Linked DNA regions of Homo sapiens: region 2 is linked to region 1. A link means that fine-mapping ties the variant in region 1 to the expression of a gene that starts in the linked region. Tissue or cell type: lung. Region 1 holds a variant in brackets; the other region holds the start of a gene. All regions are shown on one strand. Distances are between the middles of the regions.

Region 1 (7,495 bases):
ATTAGCCAGTCATGGTGGCGTGCACCTGTGGTCCCAGCTACTTGGGATGCTAAGATAGGAGGACTGCTTGAGCCCCAGAGGTCAAGGCAGCAGTGATCTGTGGTCACGCCACTGCACTCCAGTCTAGGCAACAAAGTGAGATCCTGTCTCAAAAAAAGAAAAGAAAGAATATCCCAATATAACTTCACAAACAACAGAAATCACTAGAAATACTGTCAACAGTCTAACAGCTGGAAAAAAATGTTGTATGTTAAGATATATGCTCCACACCACATGCCAACCCTATTTCTGTTTACCAAAATCTGAATTCTTACATACTACTTACAATCTCAAAATACTGATAGAGAAAAAAAGGAGTATGTCCACAACCTCCCCACACTTACTCTTCCAAAGTTCTTTTCTTTCCCTTGTCAATCACAGTCATCTGATCGTGGATTTTAAGATCTGGCTTCTGGGCTATTAATTTCTTCATGGTATGAGAACTAATGGATCCATTCAAGTGGGCATGAAGTTCCTAAGAGATACAACCAGTAAAACTTATCAAATATCCAATAGATTCATAGCATCTTACCAAGTACTTAATGTTGGTAGTTTGCAATAGGCAAACTGCTTACTAGATTTAGCTACATAATAAAGTTTACAAATTTTGCCTACAAAATTTACTTTTTCTTTTTTTGAGATGGAGTCTCCCTCTGTCACCCAGGCTGGAGTACACTGGTGCGATCTCAGCTCACTGTAACCTCCGATTCCTGGGTTCAAGCGATTCTCCTGCCTCCGCCTCCTGAGTAGCTGGGACTACAGGCATGCCACCAAGCCCAGCGAATTTTTGTATTTTTAGTAGAGATGGGGTTTTGCCATGTTGGCCAGTCTAGTCTCAAACTCCTGACCTCAGGTGAATCCACCCGCCTTGGCCTCCCAAAGCGCCAGAATTTCAGGCATGAGCCACTGCGCCCAGCCAAAATTTACTTTGATGAAAAGAAGCAACATCAAAGTCATTATAATTAGCAACCACTCAAGATTTCTGTAGTTGAATTCTCACCACTTTTGGCAATTCAGAATAGAAGTCTGTCTTGCAAGGCTGTTGCTCTTCTGCCTCTATCATTTTAGCAGGAAAAAAATGATTCTTCTCCACTCTTATTCTTAGTATGAGCAATATGATGTATTTCAGTCAGTAAATTGTATGGTACTGAATTTCCTTCAGATTGCTTTACTTCCACACATTTTGGTAAGATTAGCTGTATGTGTAGATCTGGGTTCAGCTTCACCTATTTTAACAAATGTTAATATTTTCAGATGTAAAAGCAAAGAAACAGGATTTTGTTAATTTTTTCTTTAAAAGGCAAAAGCTCCTCTAAAACTAACTTAAGTGTGTCTAAGGTGGGAAAACGATTAGTAAACAACATAAACTGGAAACAGGAAAAGACCTCAAGCTTATAAGAGGTGTACTAAAACCTGACATTTAGTAGAGTATATTCCTTAACTATTGGCACCTTCTATACAACGACTTCAAAAATTCAAAATTTTATAAGGCCTACTTTGGATAAAATATATATATATATATATATATATATATATAATTTTTTTGAGACAGTCTCCCTCTGTCACCCAGGCTGGAGTACACTGGCATGGTCTCAGCTCACTGCAGCCTCTATCTCCTGGGTTCAAGTGATTCTCCTGCCTCAGCTTCCCAAGTAGCTGGGATTACAGGTACATGCCACCACACCTGGCCAATTTTTGTATTTTTAATAGAGACAGGGTCTCACCATGTTGGCCAGGCTGGTCTCGAACTCCTGACCTCAAGTGATCCACCCGCCTCAGCCTCCCAAAGTGCTAGGATTACAGGCATGAGCCACCATGCCCGGCCAAAAATAAAATTTTAAATTTTGAATTGTTTAAAATATATAAAAGAAGAACAGAGGTGCTGGCATTAGATGGACCTAGGTTTGTCCTTTTACCAGCTCTACAGGTTAGAAGCTGTGTGGCCTTAGTCACTCACCTTCATGGCTTCAGTTTCTTTATTTACAAAAATGGGATTAAAAATGCAAAGTAGCAGTGACGATTAATAAAGTATTTTAAATTCCCCTCATCTATGTTCCCACATGAGCCAGTCACTGCCTTTAACTCAGCATTTAATCACACTGATATCTCAATCACTGATATACTTGTCTTTCTCTCTCACCAGACTGTAAGTTCCTTGAGGACAGGTCCTTTGAATTATTCCACCACTCTAACACTTAGCACAGTGCCTAGCACACTGTAGGTGATAAATCAATCATAATTTCCCTTCACTTCTGAAAGTGGTTTATAAGTGAAGATAAAATTCCAAGTGAAATTTAGTGATTTTCAAACTAGCCACCTTGACTCTCTGGGTTCTCACGTATTAATGAGGATGATGTTTAAGAATAACAGTTTCCATGTATTTGGAACCTAACAGGTATGTGACAAGCGCTTTTAATAATGTTATCTTTAATCCTTGAAATAACTTTGTGAAATATTACTGTATTGAAAATCAATAAATTGATACTGAGTGGGGTTAAATAAGTTACCAAGATATTAAAATGTACAATAAAGAAAGTAGTTTGTATAGGACTAAACATAGCCATAGAAATCCATAGAAAGGCCTACTTAGTATGAGATAAACATGGCATTTCAAAGTAATGCCATAGTAAGTGCTTAATAAATAGTAAAAAATGAAAAAGATGGACTATTTAATCAATGGCATTTAATATCTCTACCGAAAAACATAAATGATTTAATTAAAATGGAAAAACATACCTTTTTTTTTTTTTCTTTTGAGACAGGATCTTACTTTGTTGCCCAGGCTGGAGTGCAGTGTCACGATCACAGCTTGCTGCAGTCTCAAGCTTCCAGACTCAAGCGATCCTCCCACTTCAGCCTCCTAAGCAGCAGAGATCACAGGCATGCACCACAATGCCCATCTAATTTTATATAAAATTTTTTTTGTAGAGACGGGGTCTCACCATGTTGCCCAGGCTGGTCTCAAACTCCTGGGCTCAAGTGATCCACCAGCCTGAGCTGGGATTACAGGAGCGAGCCACTGCGCCCGGCCAGATTTTCAATTTTACTCCAGGATCCTGACCTTAATTTGTGCCCCATTCAAACCATCCTCCAGACTGACCTTTAACTAGCTGTGAGTAAATTTACTGACCCACTGGCTACAATGTTAACCTATGGAAATTAAAAAGCAACTAAGCAATCATAATCTTTACACATTAAAAAAAATTGTTGTTCCTTGCCTAAAACATGGATACCAACAACAGCATGCCATGACAAATTTAACTTTTCTGGACTGGTTTTGCTCTGGGACGGAAGGCAACAAACACTGGGATAAGATCCACGTTAGTAATACTTCATCAATATTAGAGCAGGGCCAGAAGCAAGTATCCTGTCTCCCAGGGAACTTTTTTCATGCTCCCACCTACTCCCCCAAAAGGGAACTCAGAATAAAAAAAAATTTGTTACTGTTTATTATGCACTTACCATGAGCCAGGCACTGTGGTGTCTTAGATAGTTATTTTGTTTAAATCCTCACAACAACCCCTGAGATATTATTATCCCCATTTTATATAAGAATAAACTGAGATTTAAACAATGGCCCCTCCTCCCCCGGCCTAAATCATAAGGCATCGAAATCAGAAATTTTACTCCATTCTCTTTCTTCTTTAATTACTTTTCTTGATCTGGTCTTTGCAAAACAAGTAGTATTTTTGACATAACACCTACATTTTAGGAACCTGTCATTAAATAAATTTGTTTCTATGGTGCTACGTATTTTTCAAAGTCCTTCAACTTTTTTTTTTTTTCTATTTGCCCCTCAATCAACCCTGAGATACCTCACGAAGCAGTACTTAATCTCATTTTAGAGGTGAGGATCCACTGACCCAGCAGGCATAGGTGAGCCCTTCTTCTAATCCCTTCAGAAGCAATTCTCAAACTGCTCAAATGTTCCATCAGATCTGAATGCCTTACACTAAACTGACAACTCTGTCACCAACTTTACAGAGAAAACAGAAGCCATCAGGTGCAAATTCCTTCTTTTTCTCTCTGCCCTACCTCACACCTGAGCTTATGATTATCCATAATCTTTTTTTTACCCCATCAGGAGTCACAGATAAAGGATTCATTCTCCTATCCCCACAACTAATACGTGCCCAGGATCCCATTTCTATCTATTCCAAGTTACTCTACCAGTGAGTTGTCTTCTCATTTTTCTGTTCCTTCAACCTCTCCCTCTCCACTAGCTGGTTTCCCTCACAGGACCAACACGCATGTGCAGTATTTGCTTCCACCTGAAAACAAAACAAAAGACTCTTTTATCCCACAATATTCTTTAGCCACTGCCCTGACCCTTTTTTCCTTCTGAGTTAAGCTCCTCGAAAGTATAATAATTTAGACTGGATACCTCCTTTAACTCACCTCCTATTCACTGAAACATGGATTCTGCCCTTATTGCTCCACAGAAACTGCTCTCCCTAAGGCCATTAATGAGCTTTTAAACACCAAATCTAAATGTCACTTTTCAATTACCGAATCTTTATCCTGATCCAAACCTTTTCTTTCTTATTTCATTTTGTTCCACAAGAAAACATTGGAAAATACGAAACTTTTTCTTGACTCCAGTATCCAAATCTGCTGGACTCCAAAACTCACACTCTTAACCATTATGCAGTACCACCTGTAGTTAACCATAAAGTTATCTGATTTCCTTTTCTATTTCAGCCAGTCAGTCACCAAATCCCAGTGAACAAATGATAAATTTCCTAAATGTCTCTGGAAGTGGTTTCCTATGGATGACTCCCAGACACCCAATTTAGAAACTTTATGATTATTCTGAAGTCTAACCTGGATTTACTCCTTAAAAACAAAGCTCAGAACATATCACAGGGAACAATCACCTCTCTTCAGTGACTCCCCTTTCTGGGGACATATTCAACACTACTTTAAAATCCACAGAATTCTCCAAGGCGGTGTGATGAGAAAGAGAGGCTG[A/C]GTGGTTTATTCACCGTCAGTCTAACATAGGGCTGGGAATACAAGGGAATCAACAGTCTACTATCTGTGGGGAAACGTCTTCTTGTTAGGTGTCTATAAATTATTTGTAAAGGTCGGTTTCTTCAGTTTGCACCCTGGCCTTAGTGACTTGTTTTCAAGTTTTAAATGGGGTTCTCTTTTGCAACTGTGAGAGCATTAAATAAATCAGCAACTATTAGCACCCAAGGAAGCTAACTAATCCTTGCCTACTGAAGGTCCGTGGTGCCGACCCTTCTTGGCTCCTACCAGACCCTTCCTTGGCGGTCCAAGGAAGCCAAGTCGTCAGTCCCCACAGACTCACCTCTTAGAGATTTCTCAACTACAAGGACTTAGGCAAGGTTTCCCTTTTGACTGGAAGGCTTGTAGAAACGTGACAACCCGCCTTCCCTAACACTCATGTCACAGCGGTAGCGGACCGTATTCTGGGACAAATGGAACTCACGACATTCCAAAGAAAGGTCAGCCGCAAGCGAACTTAGCACTGGCTACACCCTCCTCAATTCTGGTTGGCGAGATGCGCTCTTCCCGGAAGTGACGCACAAGTGCCGGCGGAAGGGGAAGTCCAGGAGCATGGGTGGTTTTTTTCCCCCTACCGAGGTCCGTGAGGTGTGTGCTAACCAAGGGGCGGCTCACAACCGTGACAGACTGCCATTCCTGAGTCTCTTCTGGCCATGGGCCCCCGGAGCCGTGAGCGTCGGGCAGGCGCGGTACAGAACACCAACGACAGCAGCGCCCTCAGCAAGCGTTCCCTGGCCGCGCGCGGGTACGTGCAGGACCCCTTTGCCGCGTTGCTGGTTCCGGGCGCGGCGCGCCGCGCACCGCTCATTCACCGAGGCTACTACGTCCGCGCACGCGCCGTGAGGCACTGCGTGCGCGCTTTTTTGGAGCAGATTGGCGCGCCCCAGGCCGCGCTTCGCGCGCAGATCTTGTCTCTCGGCGCTGGCTTCGACTCGCTCTATTTTCGCTTAAAAACCGCGGGCCGCCTGGCCCGGGCTGCAGTCTGGGAGGTGGATTTTCCGGACGTGGCGCGGCGCAAAGCAGAAAGGATTGGAGAGACGCCAGAGCTGTGCGCGTTAACCGGGCCTTTCGAGAGGGGGGAGCCCGCGTCCGCGCTGTGCTTTGAGAGCGCAGACTACTGCATCCTGGGTCTGGACTTGCGGCAGCTCCAGCGAGTGGAGGAGGCCCTGGGCGCCGCGGGGCTCGACGCAGCCTCACCCACTCTGCTCCTGGCCGAGGCGGTGCTGACCTACCTCGAGCCGGAGAGTGCCGCGGCCCTCATCGCCTGGGCAGCCCAGCGTTTTCCTAATGCCCTTTTCGTGGTCTATGAGCAGATGAGGCCTCAAGACGCCTTTGGCCAGTTCATGCTGCAACATTTTCGGCAGCTAAACTCCCCCCTGCATGGCCTGGAGCGTTTTCCTGACGTGGAGGCGCAGCGGCGCCGCTTCCTTCAAGCTGGCTGGACCGCCTGCGGTGCCGTGGACATGAATGAATTCTATCACTGCTTTCTTCCCGCAGAAGAACGCCGGCGGGTGGAAAATATTGAACCCTTTGACGAATTTGAGGAGTGGCATCTGAAGTGCGCCCATTATTTCATTCTGGCAGCTTCTAGGGGAGACACCCTCTCCCACACCCTAGTGTTTCCATCCTCAGAGGCATTTCCTCGCGTAAATCCTGCTTCGCCTTCAGGGGTATTCCCTGCCAGCGTAGTCAGTAGCGAGGGCCAGGTCCCAAACCTGAAGAGATATGGCCACGCCTCTGTCTTCTTGAGCCCAGACGTTATTCTCAGTGCAGGAGGATTTGGAGAGCAGGAGGGGCGGCACTGCCGAGTGAGCCAGTTTCACTTGCTCTCAAGAGATTGTGACTCTGAATGGAAAGGCAGCCAAATAGGCAGTTGTGGGACTGGAGTTCAGTGGGATGGACGCCTTTATCACACCATGACAAGACTCTCAGAGAGTCGGGTTCTGGTTCTGGGAGGGAGACTGTCCCCAGTAAGTCCAGCCTTGGGGGTTCTCCAGCTTCATTTTTTTAAGAGTGAGGATAATAACACTGAGGACCTGAAAGTGACAATAACAAAGGCTGGCCGAAAGGATGATTCCACTTTGTGTTGTTGGCGGCATTCAACAACAGAAGTGTCCTGTCAGAATCAGGAATATTTGTTTGTGTATGGGGGTCGAAGCGTGGTGGAACCTGTACTAAGTGACTGGCATTTCCTCCATGTAGGGACAATGGCTTGGGTCAGGATCCCAGTGGAGGGAGAAGTACCTGAAGCCCGGCATTCTCACAGTGCCTGCACTTGGCAAGGGGGAGCCCTTATTGCTGGAGGTCTCGGGGCTTCTGAGGAGCCATTGAACTCTGTGCTCTTTCTGAGACCAATCTCTTGTGGATTCCTCTGGGAGTCAGTAGACATCCAGCCTCCCATTACCCCAAGGTACTCCCACACAGCTCA
Region 2 (6,428 bases), 320 kb before region 1:
GGAGCAGGTTGTTCAGTTTCCATGTAGTTGAGCGGTTTTGAGTGAGATTCTTAATCCTGAGTTCTAGTTTGATTGCACTGTGGTCTGAGAGATAGTTTGTTATAATTTCTGTTCTTTTACATTTGCTGAGGAGAGCTTTACTTCCAACTATGTGGCCAATTTTGGAATAGGTGTGGTGTGGTGCTGAAAAAAACGTATATTCTGTTGATTTGGGGTGGAGAGTTCTGTAGATGTCTATTAGGTCCGCTTGGTGGAGAGCTGAGTTCAATTCCTGGGTATTCTTGTTGACTTTCTGTCTCGTTGATCTGTCTAATGTTGACAGTGGGGTGTTAAAGTCTCCCATTATTAATGTGTGGGAGTCTAAGTCTCTTTGTAGGTCACTCAGGACTTGCTTTATGAATCTGGGTGCTCCTGTATTGGGTGCATATATATTTAGGATAGTTAGCTCTTCTTGTTGAATTGATCAACAAGGCCTTAATTACTTAATTGATCATTAAGTAATGGCCTTCGTCTCTTTTGATCTTTGTTGGTTTAAAGTCTGTTTTATCAGAGACTAGGATTGCAACCCCTGCCTTTTTTTGTTTTCCATTTGCTTGGTAGATCTTCCTCCATCCTTTTATTTTGAGCCTATGTGTGTCTCTGCACGTGAGATGGGTTTCCTGAATACAGCACACTGATGGGTCTTGACTCTTTATCCAATTTGCCAGTCTGTGTCTTTTAATTGGAGCATTTAGTCCATTTACATTTAAAGTTAATATTGTTATGTGTGAATTTGATCCTGTCATTATGATGTTAGCTGGTTATTTTGCTCATTAGTTGATGCAGTTTCTTCCTAGTCTCGATGGTCTTTACATTTTGGCATGATTTTGCAGCGGCTGGTACCGTTTGTTCCTGTCCATGTTTAGTGCTTCCTTCAGGAGCTCTTTTAGGGCAGGCCTGGTGGTGACAAAATCTCTCAGCATTTGCTTGTCTGTAAAGTATTTTATTTCTCCTTCACTTATGAAGCTTAATTTGGCTGGATATGAAATTCTGGGTTGAAAATTCTTTTCTTTAAGAATGTTGAATATTGGCCCCCACTCTCTTCTGGCTTGTAGAGTTTATGCCGAGAGATCTGCTGTTAGCCTGATGGGCTTCCCTTTCAGGGTAACCCACCTTTCTCTCTGGCTGCCCTTAACATTTTTTCCTTCATTTCAACTTTGGTGAATCTGACAATTATGTGTCTTGGTGTTGCTCTTCTCGAGGAGTATCTTTGTGGCATTCTCTGTATTTCCTGAATCTGAATGTTGGCCTGCCTTGCTAGATTGGGGAAGTTCTCCTGGATAATATCCTGTAGAGTGTTTTCCAACTTGGTTCCATTCTCCCCATCACTTTCAGGTACACCAGTCAGACGTAGATTTGGTCTTTTCACATAGTCCCATATTTCTTGGAGGCTTTGCTCATTTCTTTTTATTCTTTTTTCTCTAAACTTCCCTTCTCGCTTCATTTCATTCATTTCATCTTCCATCGCTGATACCCTTTCTTCCAGTTGATTGCATCGGCTCCTGAGGCTTCTGCATTCTTCACGTAGTTCTTGAGCCTTGGCTTTCAGCTCCATCAGCTCCTTTAAGCACTTCTCTGTATTGGTTATTGTAGTTATACATTCTTCTAAATTTTTTTCAAAGTTTTCAACTTCTTTGCCTTTGGTTTGAATGTCCTCCCGTAGCTCAGAGTAATTTGATCGTCTGAAGCCTTCTTCTCTCAGCTCGTCAAAGTCATTCTCCGTCCAGCTTTGTTCCGTTGCTGGTGAGGAACTGTGTTCCTTTGGAGGAGGAGAGGTGCTCTGCTTTTTAGAGTTTGCAGTTTTTCTGCTCTGTTTTTTCCCCATCTTTGTGGTTCTATCTACTTTTGGTTTTCGATGATGGTGATGTACAGATGGGTTTTTGGTGTGGACGTCCTTTCTGTTTGTTAGTTTTCCTTCTAACAGACAGGACCCTCAGCTGCAGGTCTGTTGGAGTACCTGGCCGTGTGAGGTGTCAGTCTGCCCCTGCTGGGGGTTGCCTCCCAGTTAGGCTGCTTGGGGGTCAGGGGTCAGGGACCCACTTGAGGAGGCAGTCTGGCCGTTCTCAGATCTCCAGCTGCGTGCTAGGAGAACCACTGCTCTCTTCAAAGCTGTCAGACAGGGACATTTAAGTCTGCAGAGGTTACTGCTGTCTTTTTGTTTGTCTGTGCCCTGCCCCCAGAGGTGGAGCCTACAGAGGCAGGCAGGCCTCCTTGAGCTGTGGTGGGCTCCACCCAGTTCGAGCTTCCCGGCTGCTTTGTTTACCTAAGCAAGCCTGGGCAATGGCAGGCACCCCTCCCCCAGCCTCGCTGCCGCCTTGCAGTTTGATCTCAGACTGCTGTGCTAGCAATCAGCGAGACTCCGTGGGTGTAGGACCCTCCGAGCCAGGTGCGGGATATAATCTCCTGGTGCGCTGTTTTTTAAGCCCGTCGGAAAAGCGAAGTTTTCGGGTGGGAGTGACCCGATTTTCCAGGTGCTGTCTGTCACCACTTTCTTTGACTAGGAAAGGGAACTCCCTGACCCCTTGCGCTTCCCGAGTGAGGCAATGCCTCGCCCTGCTTCGGCTCGTGCACAGTGCGCGCACCCACTGACCTGCGCCCACTGTCTGGCACTCCCTATTGAGATGAACCGGGTACCTCAGATGGAAATGCAGAAATCACCCGTCTTCTGCGTCACTCATGCTGGGAGCTGTCGACTGGAGCTGTTCCTATTCGGAGTATTGACATTTTAAAGAAATCCTAATTAAAATGGACAATATGGACAGATTATGATGGAATTATTCTTGTTCAGGTACTCTTTTCGTTTGGACAGAGGTATCTGCCGGTACTGAGATGTAAGTGATCAGCTGAAGGGAGAAACTGTACACCATGTGACGGACAAATTGCCTGCCTCAAGAAAGCACTTAGGACCATTCTGCAGCCACTCAGTGACCTTGGCTAGAAACCAATGGCTGTGCGGCGTGAGGTAAGATGAAAGGAAATACCCTAGGGATCCAGGACTTCTGCATTTGGTGAAACGTCCGCTTCCACTACAAGGCTTTGGGATGTCTAGTCTGTAGACTGGAGTAACATTAATACTGACTCATGCAGAAACAATATAGCTACATATTGAACTGGGGGAAGGGGTGGCAAAACCCTCTGCAAATAGGAAGTGCCACAAGAGCACCGAGATAAGGATGAGGCCCTGCGTGAGCGCAGCCTTCGGGTTTTCCTTGGGCCGATCAGCACCGACTCCACCGCTCTCGGCGAGGCACCTCCAGCTCCCGGGAATGAGAAATGTGCCCGCCACAGCAGGGGCCCACAGGAATGAAGGGCGCCGGCGCTGCGTAGGCCCAACAGTTCCCCGCGCCCTCGCCCCCGGCCCCGGCCCAGCCCGGCCCTTCTTCCCCCGCCTTGGCAGAGTGGCGTCATCAGGGGGCGAAAAACCCGACGAGCATGAGGCCCGCAGATCCCGTGTAGGAGATGCGACTCTCGAAGTTGTCGTCCGTGAGTTCGGAGGCAGCGGCGAGGCGGGCCGCGGCAAGAAGCAGCGCCACACCCGGGAACAGCGCTAGGCGGCGGAGGCGCATGGCGGCGAGGTGGGGTGGGGACGGCCGGAAGGGTCGCGGCTCGGCTGGGACTGCGGAGGTCGGGCGCGCGACCACAAACCGGCTGCCTGCGCTGGCGCGTCTGGCCCAGGGGACCTGCAGCCGGAGGTCCCAACCCCCAAACCCGGCTCGGGCCGCTGTGTGGCAGCCGCTGATTGGCTGCGCGTCGCCTTCGTCCGGCGGGCGGGACCAGCTGGTTACCGCTGAGTGGCCGGAGAGCGGGGCGGGGCGGGGCCTAGGCGGCGAGTGGCTGGGCGAGCGTTGCTCCGCATGGTCCTGGGCTGTGGGTAGGGGCTAGGGCCGGGTCCCGGGGTGAGCCGAAACCTGGGGGTCGAGCGGGGCGGGGAATGGGGCGCAGTGAGGCTGGGAGCCGGCCCTGAGCTCGTCTTGCATAGGGGTAGCCAGGCTCGGGGCACCTGAGCTGGAGGCGGAAGCGTGAAATAAGGACTGAGTGGGCAAAGAGAACCTGGGCTGAGGTGAGGCCCAGAAGCGAGAATGGAGGAGAGAAGGAGCTAGCCCCCGAAGGAGTGTTGGAGTGGACACACTTGGGACGGGACCCATTTTCAAAATGTCAGGCTTTGGCATTTTGTCCAATTTCTCTGCACTTGGTTTCTCTTGCGTGAGCAGGCCAAGACCTCCCCCAACTCCACCTCATTGCCCGATTGTCTCAGGCACAGGTGGGACCCAGATTCTTTGTCCAGCCCCGGGCCCCTGCCCTTGTGGCTGCTCCTTTTTCTTGCGGTGTTTTTGTTTGTTTTGTTTTGTTTTTAATGAGTTTTAATTAGAAATGCCATCACAAAGTGAAGATGCCTGGCCGCTTGGTCGACTGTGCAATGTCTTTACCACTTAGCCCCTTTTGTTTCAAAACACCCTGAGTCCTAGTAGAATGTTTGTTCTTCCCAACTGCTCCTAGTTCGTAGATGTGGGTACATTAAGGAATCTTAAGGGTAAAGAGGGTGGGGAGGAGGGGACAGAAAACCTGTAATCCTTGGTGCAGCTCCAAGAATGAAATGACACTTGATGCTTACATTTTCTTAGCAGACATGGCCGCTTACCAACAAGAAGAGCAGATGCAGCTTCCCCGAGCTGATGCCATTCGTTCACGTCTCATCGATACTTTCTCTCTCATTGAGCATTTGCAAGGCTTGAGCCAAGCTGTGCCGCGGCACACTATCAGGGAGTTACTTGGTCAGCAGCCTATTTCTTCACTAATTTAAATTTAAGACTCCTATCCACATCCTCTACATTTAAGAGTGGAAAATTCTGGGGAGGTTTAGTTGCTGGTTTACCAAACTTGATAAATCAAGGGCTTGTAAATAAAACTGAAGAGATAGAATCCACGTCTTTCACTTTTAGGCCTAGGATAGCCACTAGCCATGGATGATTGGGAAGAGTTTCTGTCAAAGACTCTTAAAACTTTGAGAGTGAGCCTGCTGCTTTTGTGGGCATGGACAGTGTTGGTCATAAGCAATACATTTGCTCTCACTCCAAACAGAATTCTTAGTTGCTGTGAGAAGAGAAGGACTAGCAGTAAGGCATTAGGGGAACCCATTACCTGACCAGTATCCCTGCCCCCAACCCTACCTGGTCTATTTTGTTTGTATTTATCCACTATCCCTTTTTAATTTTTGTTGTAGATCCTTCCCGCCAGAAGAAACTTGTATTGGGAGATCAACACCAGCTAGTGCGTTTCTCTATAAAGCCTCAGCGTATAGAACAGATTTCACATGCCCAGAGGCTGTTGAGCAGGCTTCATGTGCGCTGCAGTCAGAGGCCACCTCTTTCTTTGTGGGCCGGATGGGTCCTTGAGTGTATCCTTTCATGTCACTCATTTTTATCCTGGCTGTTGATCATCTGCCTAATGACTTATTTTTTGCTCCCCATACTCCACTGTCTCATTTTCACTGCTTATGTTATTGCTCTTATTATTTCAGCTGCATAAATCAGAAAGAACTCCACTCTGTACATTTCCTTAAGAGACAACAGGTCCTCTCTTCAAAAACTTCATCATCTTCCTGGTCTTTTTGAATACGATCATATTGATGGTTGAAATAGGTGAGAACTGACCTTGTATGAAAGAGGAAGTGAGGCCGGGCACGCCGGCTCACACGTGTAATCCTAGCACTTTGGGAGGCCGGGGCGTGTGGATTGCCGGAGCTCAGGAGTTGGAGACCAGCCTGGGCAACATGGTGAAACCCTGTCTCTACTAAAAAATACAAAAAATTAGCCGGGCTTGGTAGCACGCGCTTGTAGTCCCAGCTACTTGGGAGGCTGAGGCAGGAGAATCGCTTAAACCCAGGAGGCGTAGGTTTCAGTGAGCCGAGATTGTGCCACTGCATTTCAGCCTGGGCGACAGAGTACAACTCTGTCTCAAAAAAAAAAAAAAGAAAAAGAAAAAGAGGAAGTGGGTAGGAGTAATTTTTTTTTCTAAATTGATCATTTTACATTTTTGAATGTCATTTGAAATGTGACATTTATATTAAGGACAATTATATTAAGCCTCCTGGAGTAGAATTTATGCAACTGCTAAAATCTAGAAATATTCGCTGGGCACGGTAGCTCACACCTGTAATCTCAGCACTTTGGGAGGCCGAGGTGGTTGAATCACTTGAGGTCAGGAATTCAAGACCAGCCTAGCCAACATGTTGAAACCCCATCTGTACTAAAAATAGAAAAAATTAGCTGGGCGTGGTGGTGGGCACCTGTAATCCCAGCTACTCAGTAGGCTGAGGCAGGAGGACGCTTGATCGTGGGAAGCCGAGGTTGCAGTGAGCTGAAATCACGCCACTGCACCCCATCTCAAAA

What was found. PIP is the estimated chance that this variant, and not a neighbour inherited with it, causes the effect.
Region 2: it holds the start of CATSPER2, and the variant in region 1 is fine-mapped to the expression of CATSPER2 in lung (TOPMed, PIP 0.92).

What each region holds. Positions count from the first base shown.
Region 1 is chr15:43,328,715-43,336,209 of GRCh38, reverse strand. LCMT2 (leucine carboxyl methyltransferase 2) reads left to right here and starts at 5,637. Exons shown (of 1, transcript NM_014793.5): 1 at 5,637-7,495. The coding sequence starts at 5,721. It overlaps MAPDA (N6-Methyl-AMP deaminase), which reads right to left and starts at 5,538. Exons shown (of 13, transcript NM_001324366.2): 1 at 5,351-5,538; 2 at 4,210-4,310; 3 at 2,776-2,899; 4 at 1,040-1,265; 5 at 384-514. The coding sequence starts at 1,102. RefSeq lists enhancers at 5,497-5,546, 4,779-5,729. The variant A/C (reference allele first, on the strand shown) is at 5,011.
Region 2 is chr15:43,646,300-43,652,727 of GRCh38, reverse strand. CATSPER2 (cation channel sperm associated 2) reads left to right here and starts at 3,884. Exons shown (of 13, transcript NM_172095.4): 1 at 3,884-4,099; 2 at 4,665-4,811; 3 at 5,261-5,434; 4 at 5,610-5,678. The coding sequence starts at 4,667. It also overlaps the pseudogene PPIP5K1P1-CATSPER2 and the pseudogene PDIA3P2.